2 linked regions of the Homo sapiens genome follow. The gene in region 1 interacts genetically with each later gene. Each region holds a gene or a part of one and is shown in the gene's direction. Other genes may lie near its edges.

Region 1 (5,167 bases):
TTAAATACAGTACTTTTGGTATCTTACTCTTCAGGTAAGTGATATTTCTTGTTAATATTCTTACATTCTGAAAATCAGCAATCTTAAACTCTCATACCAGATAATATAATTTATTAAAATGCTCAACAAATGAAGTAAGTTCCACTTACCTAATCAGAAGTGCTTAAGTGAAAGCTATTTCTCTGTATAACTCAGTTTTACGCATATACAGAATTCAGCTAAAAGCATGTTTTATAAAAAGGAAAATTAATAGCCAAACATACACAAGGAACTAGAGTGGAACATATCAAAAGACAGTGGTGATTTCTGCATTTTTAAAAAAAGTGGCAGGGCTCACACCTGTAATCCCAACACTTTAGGAGGCTGAGGTGGGAGGACTGCTTGAGCCCTGGAGGTTGTGAGATGTGACTCGTGCCACTCCAGCCTGAGTGACAGTGAGACTCAAAAAAGTGGTTGTCTTAGATGGGTTTTTGTTATTTTTCTTTTCTTTTTTTTTTTTTTTTTTGAGACGGAGTCTCTTGTCACCCTGGCTGGAGTGCAGTGGCGTGATCTCAGCTCACTGCAACCTCCGCCTCCCAGGTTCAAGTGATGCTCCTGCCTCAGCCTTCTGAGTAGCTGGGATTACAGGTGCCCACCACCACCATGCCTGGCTAATTTTTGCATTTTTAGTAGAGACAGGGTTTCACGACGTTGGCCTGGCTGGTCTTGAACTCCTGACGTCAGGTGATCCACCTGCCTTGGCCTCCCAGATTGCTGGGATTACAGGTGTGAGCCACCACTCCTGGCCTTTGTTATTCTTTTTTTTTTTTTTTTTTTTTTTTTGAGAGGGAGTTTTGCTCTTTTGTCCAGGCTGGAGTGCAGTGGCGCAATTTTGGCTCACTGCAACCTCTGCCTTATGGTTTCAAGCGATTCTCCTGCCTCAGCTTCCCAAATAGCTGGGAATACAGGCGCCAGCCACTGCGCCCAGTTAATTTTTGTATTTTTAGTAGAGACAGGGTTTCACCATGTTGGCCAGGCTGGTCTCGAACTCCTGAGCTTGTGATCCCCCTGCCTCAGCCTTGCAAGGTGTTGGGATTACAGGCGTGAGCCACCACTCCTGGCCCGTTACTCTTATTTTGCAAACAAGTGAGTTAATTTTTCAGGAAGCAATTAATAAATTACCAGATAAACAATTTGAAATATTTGGAAGTATTATAAGTTTAGTCCTCTGTAACCATTTGGCCTTTAGCATAATGTCCAGGATGTATTCTCATTTCGTATGATCAGATCTTCATTTTCTGAGCTTTATATGTTTTCTTTTAGGTTGCAAATGCTGAAAGCTTAAATGCAATTGGTGTGTTGATATACATGGACCAGACTAAATTTCCCATTGTTAACGCAGAACTTTCATTCTTTGGACATGTGAGTTATTTCTTGAGTAAATCACCGTTTTGAGTTCCTTGAGTTGTTCTTGGATTCCTGTATTAGCAGAAATAGCACTGTGTCTTCCTTAACTGCTCTTTTTTCTGGGAGGGCGTTAGCAGTAAGCAAGAAGATAGATTACATTGACTTTGAGGCTTTATTATTTGTTGCTAAAAGTACTTTGTCAATAGTGCCTTGAATTTGAGAATTTCCATATGCCATGAAAACAGGAGTCACATTGTAGAGCCACTCAGATTTTTGAGGCTTCAAGTTGGTAAACTAAGGTTGGGCTGCAGCCTTATACCAAACCTGAATCTTACAGAGAAGTTTTGAGGAAGTATGTGATGGAGTGAATTGCTCTTTTGTTTTCCTAGGCTCATCTGGGGACAGGTGACCCTTACACACCTGGATTCCCTTCCTTCAATCACACTCAGTTTCCACCATCTCGGTCATCAGGATTGCCTAATATACCTGTCCAGACAATCTCCAGAGCTGCTGCAGAAAAGCTGTTTGGGTAAGTTTTTATTTGAAAGCGGTCTTGCATAGTGAGGTTTTATGATTAGGGAAGAACGGTAATATGTTGATTAAAATGTTAAACATGATGATAATTTTCCACATTTGGGAATTTGGAGGATGGTTAGCTGTTACCTTGGTACAGATATAAATGAATTTTTCTCTATAAAGAGATCTTAATAATGGACTTTGGACTTATAAACACAGGAGAATAAGGAGACTTATAAACCCAGTGAATTCCTTGTGCAAGATTCCTGGCATAGCTTCTGCTCAAGTACTTCTGTGCTGAAGCACGATGCCTATAGCAGCCCATTCAGTTAGTAGAGAGAATCTGTTAGAATTCATATTGGGATAAAATCCTATTCCCCGAAACATCCATTTGTCTGGATTTTTCTTCTAAGCAATACGGTATGATTCCAGTTACCTTGTCTATAGATTGAGAAGCCTTGCTTCTTATGATGGTTTCCAGAGAAACCATTTATGGTTGTGGCTCGCTCCTCTGGATATCCTCCCTGTAACGTTAGTGTCTCTCTTTAAAAACAGAGCCCAGTTCCATTAGAGTACGTAGCATTAATTTTGATTTGGATGTGGACATATTTATCATTTCCTGTTATTACAGGATGGAGATCTAGTTTCAGGCCTTTATGAAAGCATTTATCTCCTGTATGACATAGGTTCTCTGATCCTGTTTCTTTAACATAATTGGATAGTGAAAATATATTCTACTTGATAGTCTCAAATGAAGAACATCTGTATATAAGGAGTATATGAAATACCATGACTGTTGATCATGCTGAGAGGCCTTTAGCATAGGGGAGTGTGTAACATACCATGACTATTGATAACGCTAAGAGGCATTTAGCATAGGTGATTTTTTTGACTCATTCTACCTACCACCTACAAATCGTAACCAACCTGTGAAGCCAGCGTCCCATCTTATCCTTATGTAGTAGGGGAGTAATAATGTTTCAACCTATATTTATGTAAGTAAGCCCCCTTAGGAGCAGCTATTATTTGGGTAACACAGAGGAATTAGATAGGGGAAGCACAAGATTTTTTTTTTATTTTGACAGTCTCACTCTGTTGCCCAGGCAGGAGTGCAGTGGCATGATCCTGGCTCACTGCAACCTCCACCTCCTGGGTTCAAGGAATTCTGCCTCGGCCTTCCAAAGTGCTGGGATTACAGGCGTGAGCCACCGCACCCAGCTGAGGAATATTTTTTATAACTGAGCTAAGAATGTGTACTATCCTTGTTAGTGGTGACAGTTGGGAAACATAAAAGTGTATTAATATTCTTTTATATATTAGAAGAACTTCATTTTGAGTCCATCTTGGTATGTATTCCAAATATAAACTACGTAAGTATGTCTGGCAGAAAGGCGCATAGTTAGAGAAGTGTTTTAAAATATTGCTTAATTAATGGTTTCCAATTGGCTGCCTGCAGATCAAAGTAAGACGCAAATGGTTCACCACTAGAGAGTAAGTTTTTTTTTGTTTTTATTTTGTTTTGTTTTGTTTTGTTTTTTTTTGAGACAGGACTTGTGCTCTGTTGCCCAGGCTGGAGTGCAGTGGCGTGATCTCGGCTCACTGCAGCCTCCGCCTCCCAGGTTCAAGCGATTCTCCTCCTCATCCTCCTTAGTAGCTGGGATTACAGGCGCATGCCACCATGCCCAGTTAATTTTTGTATTTTTAGTAGAGTCGGGGTTTCACCATGTCGGTCAGGCTGGTCTTGAACTCCTGACCTTGTGATCCACCTGCCTCAGCCTCCCAAAGTGCTGGGATTACAGGGGTGAGCCACTTCGCCGGGCTGAGAGTAAGTTTTGTTTATATGTCCTCTTAATCTGTAACTTCACTGGACAGGAGTAAACCCTGGGCAAGGAACAATAACTCAGAACTTACGCCTGCTTTCTGATTCTAGGAATATGGAAGGAGACTGTCCCTCTGACTGGAAAACAGACTCTACATGTAGGATGGTAACCTCAGAAAGCAAGAATGTGAAGCTCACTGTGAGCAATGTGCTGAAAGAGATAAAAATTCTTAACATCTTTGGAGTTATTAAAGGCTTTGTAGAACCAGGTAAAGACCGCCCCCCCCCCCCCCCGCCCCGCTTTTTTTTTGTTTTCTTTTCTGTTCCTAAGGATGTGGCTAGAGAAGGAGCGAGTGTAGGAATGCTGGCTTGGCTTGGTTTTATGAAGTGCTCAATCTTGTCTGTCCTAAAGTTAATTGTTTATGTGTTAGTTTCTTTTTTTTTTTTTTGAGAAAGAGTTTCACTCTTGTTGCCCAGGCTGGAGTGCAGTGGTGTGATCTCGGCTCACTGCAATTTCCGCCTCCCAGGTTCAAGCCATTCTCCTGCCTCAGCCTCCCCAGTAGCTGGGATTACAGGCATGCGCCACCACGCCTGGCTAATTTTGTATTTTTAGTAGAGACAGGGTTTCTCCATGTTGGTCAGGCTCCATGAGGTCAGAGCTCCTGACCTCAGGTGATCTGCCTCCCTCAGCCTCCCAAAGTGCTGGGATTACAGGCATGAGCCACCGCGCCCAGCCTATGTGTCAGTTTTATTGGGAGGTAATAAGGCCCTAGGAAATTCTTGTTAAAAATTGACCATTATGACTAGAAAATCTATTCTAAGTTATTGACTAGACCAGTGATAAGCAAATTTCTTAAGGGGGCAGATAATAAACCTTTTGCCAGGCTATACAGTCTCTCTTTTAGCTGTTCAACTCTGTGGGAGCAAGAAAACAGGCACAGACTGTGCGTAGTGAATGGGCATGCGGGCTGTAGTTTGCCAGTCCCTGGAGTTAACTTTAAATGCAATCAAACAGCCAACACTTACTAAGAAATAAGTCCTTGGACTTAAGTAGTCAGTAAATTTAATTAGTAGTGTAGGAAAAAAGTAGCTCTACTAGTAAGGTAAAATTAATATTCTCATGTGAATTTTTAATTCCCAGAGTTTTTAGTCAGATTTGAAGTAAGGCTCTTTTATCCTTAATACATATACTGTGCTTTTACCTTTCTACTGATGTGCTAATTCTAGAAAAGTTTAGAAGCTGATTATATAAGTTCTTTCTTCCTCTTTTTTCTTTTTTAAAGATCACTATGTTGTAGTTGGGGCCCAGAGAGATGCATGGGGCCCTGGAGCTGCAAAATCCGGTGTAGGCACAGCTCTCCTATTGAAACTTGCCCAGATGTTCTCAGATATGGTCTTAAAAGGTAGAGTACAAATTTTGATTCTTTTGAATATTGGTGCACTGCA
Region 2 (3,049 bases), on another chromosome or scaffold:
TTACCAGCTCAGATGATGGAACTGTAAAACTATGGGACTTGAAAACGGGTGAATTTATTCGAAACCTAGTCACATTGGAGAGTGGGGGGAGTGGGGGAGTTGTGTGGCGGATCAGAGCCTCAAACACAAAGCTGGTGTGTGCAGTTGGGAGTCGGAATGGGACTGAAGAAACCAAGCTGCTGGTGCTGGACTTTGATGTGGACATGAAGTGAAGAGCAGAAAAGATGAATTTGTCCAATTGTGTAGACGATATACTCCCTGCCCTTCCCCCTGCAAAAAGAAAAAAAGAAAAGAAAAAGAAAAAAATCCCTTGTTCTCAGTGGTGCAGGATGTTGGCTTGGGGCAACAGATTGAAAAGACCTACAGACTAAGAAGGAAAAGAAGAAGAGATGACAAACCATAACTGACAAGAGAGGCGTCTGCTGTCTCATCACATAAAAGGCTTCACTTTTGACTGAGGGCAGCTTTGCAAAATGAGACTTTCTAAATCAAACCAGGTGCAATTATTTCTTTATTTTCTTCTCCAGTGGTCATTGGGCAGTGTTAATGCTGAAACATCATTACAGATTCTGCTAGCCTGTTCTTTTACCACTGACAGCTAGACACCTAGAAAGGAACTGCAATAATATCAAAACAAGTACTGGTTGACTTTCTAATTAGAGAGCATCTGCAACAAAAAGTCATTTTTCTGGAGTGGAAAAGCTTAAAAAAATTACTGTGAATTGTTTTTGTACAGTTATCATGAAAAGCTTTTTTTTTTTTTTTTTTGCCAACCATTGCCAATGTCAATCAATCACAGTATTAGCCTCTGTTAATCTATTTACTGTTGCTTCCATATACATTCTTCAATGCATATGTTGCTCAAAGGTGGCAAGTTGTCCTGGGTTCTGTGAGTCCTGAGATGGATTTAATTCTTGATGCTGGTGCTAGAAGTAGGTCTTCAAATATGGGATTGTTGTCCCAACCCTGTACTGTACTCCCAGTGGCCAAACTTATTTATGCTGCTAAATGAAAGAAAGAAAAAAGCAAATTATTTTTTTTTATTTTTTTTCTGCTGTGACGTTTTAGTCCCAGACTGAATTCCAAATTTGCTCTAGTTTGGTTATGGAAAAAAGACTTTTTGCCACTGAAACTTGAGCCATCTGTGCCTCTAAGAGGCTGAGAATGGAAGAGTTTCAGATAATAAAGAGTGAAGTTTGCCTGCAAGTAAAGAATTGAGAGTGTGTGCAAAGCTTATTTTCTTTTATCTGGGCAAAAATTAAAACACATTCCTTGGAACAGAGCTATTACTTGCCTGTTCTGTGGAGAAACTTTTCTTTTTGAGGGCTGTGGTGAATGGATGAACGTACATCGTAAAACTGACAAAATATTTTAAAAATATATAAAACACAAAATTAAAATAAAGTTGCTGGTCAGTCTTAGTGTTTTACAGTATTTGGGAAAACAACTGTTACAGTTTTATTGCTCTGAGTAACTGACAAAGCAGAAACTATTCAGTTTTTGTAGTAAAGGCGTCACATGCAAACAAACAAAATGAATGAAACAGTCAAATGGTTTGCCTCATTCTCCAAGAGCCACAACTCAAGCTGAACTGTGAAAGTGGTTTAACACTGTATCCTAGGCGATCTTTTTTCCTCCTTCTGTTTATTTTTTTGTTTGTTTTATTTATAGTCTGATTTAAAACAATCAGATTCAAGTTGGTTAATTTTAGTTATGTAACAACCTGACATGATGGAGGAAAACAACCTTTAAAGGGATTGTGTCTATGGTTTGATTCACTTAGAAATTTTATTTTCTTATAACTTAAGTGCAATAAAATGTGTTTTTTCATGTTAGTATGCCTGTTTCTTCCACTGAAGTAATAATCCTTCATTATAAGTATTTAGGATTTGTCTATAATATTTAAATAAGCAAAATCTTGGTTTCTTTGCATCCTGCTGTGTGACATAGAAATCAATACTTCAAGCCTGTTTTATACCGCGAAAGTAAGGATAATGTGCTGCAACTGCAAATTTTATTTCTCTCCTAGACTATGAAGGAGGACACTCCACTGTGCTCATCTCTGTAGATTGCATTGGGGTGTATAAATATGAAATCTGGTTCCCTCAAAGAATCCACAAAACTTTTGTGATAATTACAACTAGAAGCCTTATAAATAACAAATTCATTTTGAAATTTTGACCACATATTAAGTGCTTACCCTCGATACTTTCTGTTCATTCTCTCTTAAGCTCCCACTATCCCTGAGAAGTAGGCACTATTATCTCCCATCTTAAAGACGAGCAAAAATCTGCAGCTGAGACTGGTTAGGCAATTTGTCAAATCATAGAACTAGCGGAATGCCAGAACTCAAACCCATATTTCCAAAGACTAAATACATGCTGCTCTTTAAGAAAGTTTGACAGACTAAAGCAAGGTTTGAGAGGGAAATAAGCCATTTTTCTGGTACTTTCTGACTGTTCTGTAGCCGTTTTGTTCAACAAATCTAAATTTTATAAAATCTAAATTTTATGATGTAAGGGGAAAAAATAAAGTTGTTTTTGAAACTAGTTCTAAATATATTTAGTATCTCAAATAGCAGGAGATATATATATATATATATATATATACACACACATATATATATACACACATCCAGTAATCTCAACTAACCAGGCCGTAGATGAAAATATAAAAGCTACTGAAAATGGACTCCCCTTTTTCTCATAGTCATAAAGTATGTGTTCTTTACTCATAGGGCAAATCCTGGGCCTCATTCTCCCAAAGCTACTAAATCAGAACACCTGGGAGTGTGACCCAAGAACCTGCATTTAAACTAGCTCACCAGGTGAGTTGTGGATACTAAAGTTTCAGAACCATTGCTTTAGATACCATTCCTGTACATTTGGTTATTTGGTTTATTAGTCCACAGCAAATTACAGACACAAAAATAGCAAGGAAAAGTGACAGGGTAAAGGAAAAAAACAAAAAACTACCTGGTTGAATGCAAGGCAAAAATCCTACTAGGCCGTGAAGTGCAGGGTCTTTAGAGTAAACCACGTTACTGCCC

What was found.
Region 2: changes in TFRC (region 1) and FBXW7 together harm fitness more than expected from each alone (negative genetic interaction), as found in Homo sapiens cells (one large-scale study listed by BioGRID).

Annotation. Positions count from the first base shown.
Region 1 is NC_000003.12:196,064,266-196,069,432, reverse strand, and holds part of TFRC (transferrin receptor protein 1), read left to right. Parts: intron 1-1,302; coding exon 1,303-1,401; intron 1,402-1,775; coding exon 1,776-1,915; intron 1,916-3,832; coding exon 3,833-3,990; intron 3,991-5,004; coding exon 5,005-5,124; intron 5,125-5,167. UniProt on the Homo sapiens protein: Cellular uptake of iron occurs via receptor-mediated endocytosis of ligand-occupied transferrin receptor into specialized endosomes. Endosomal acidification leads to iron release.
Region 2 is NC_000004.12:152,320,044-152,323,092, reverse strand, and holds the end of FBXW7 (F-box/WD repeat-containing protein 7), read left to right. Parts: coding exon 1-212; 3' UTR 213-2,549; downstream 2,550-3,049. UniProt on the Homo sapiens protein: Substrate recognition component of a SCF (SKP1-CUL1-F-box protein) E3 ubiquitin-protein ligase complex which mediates the ubiquitination and subsequent proteasomal degradation of target proteins.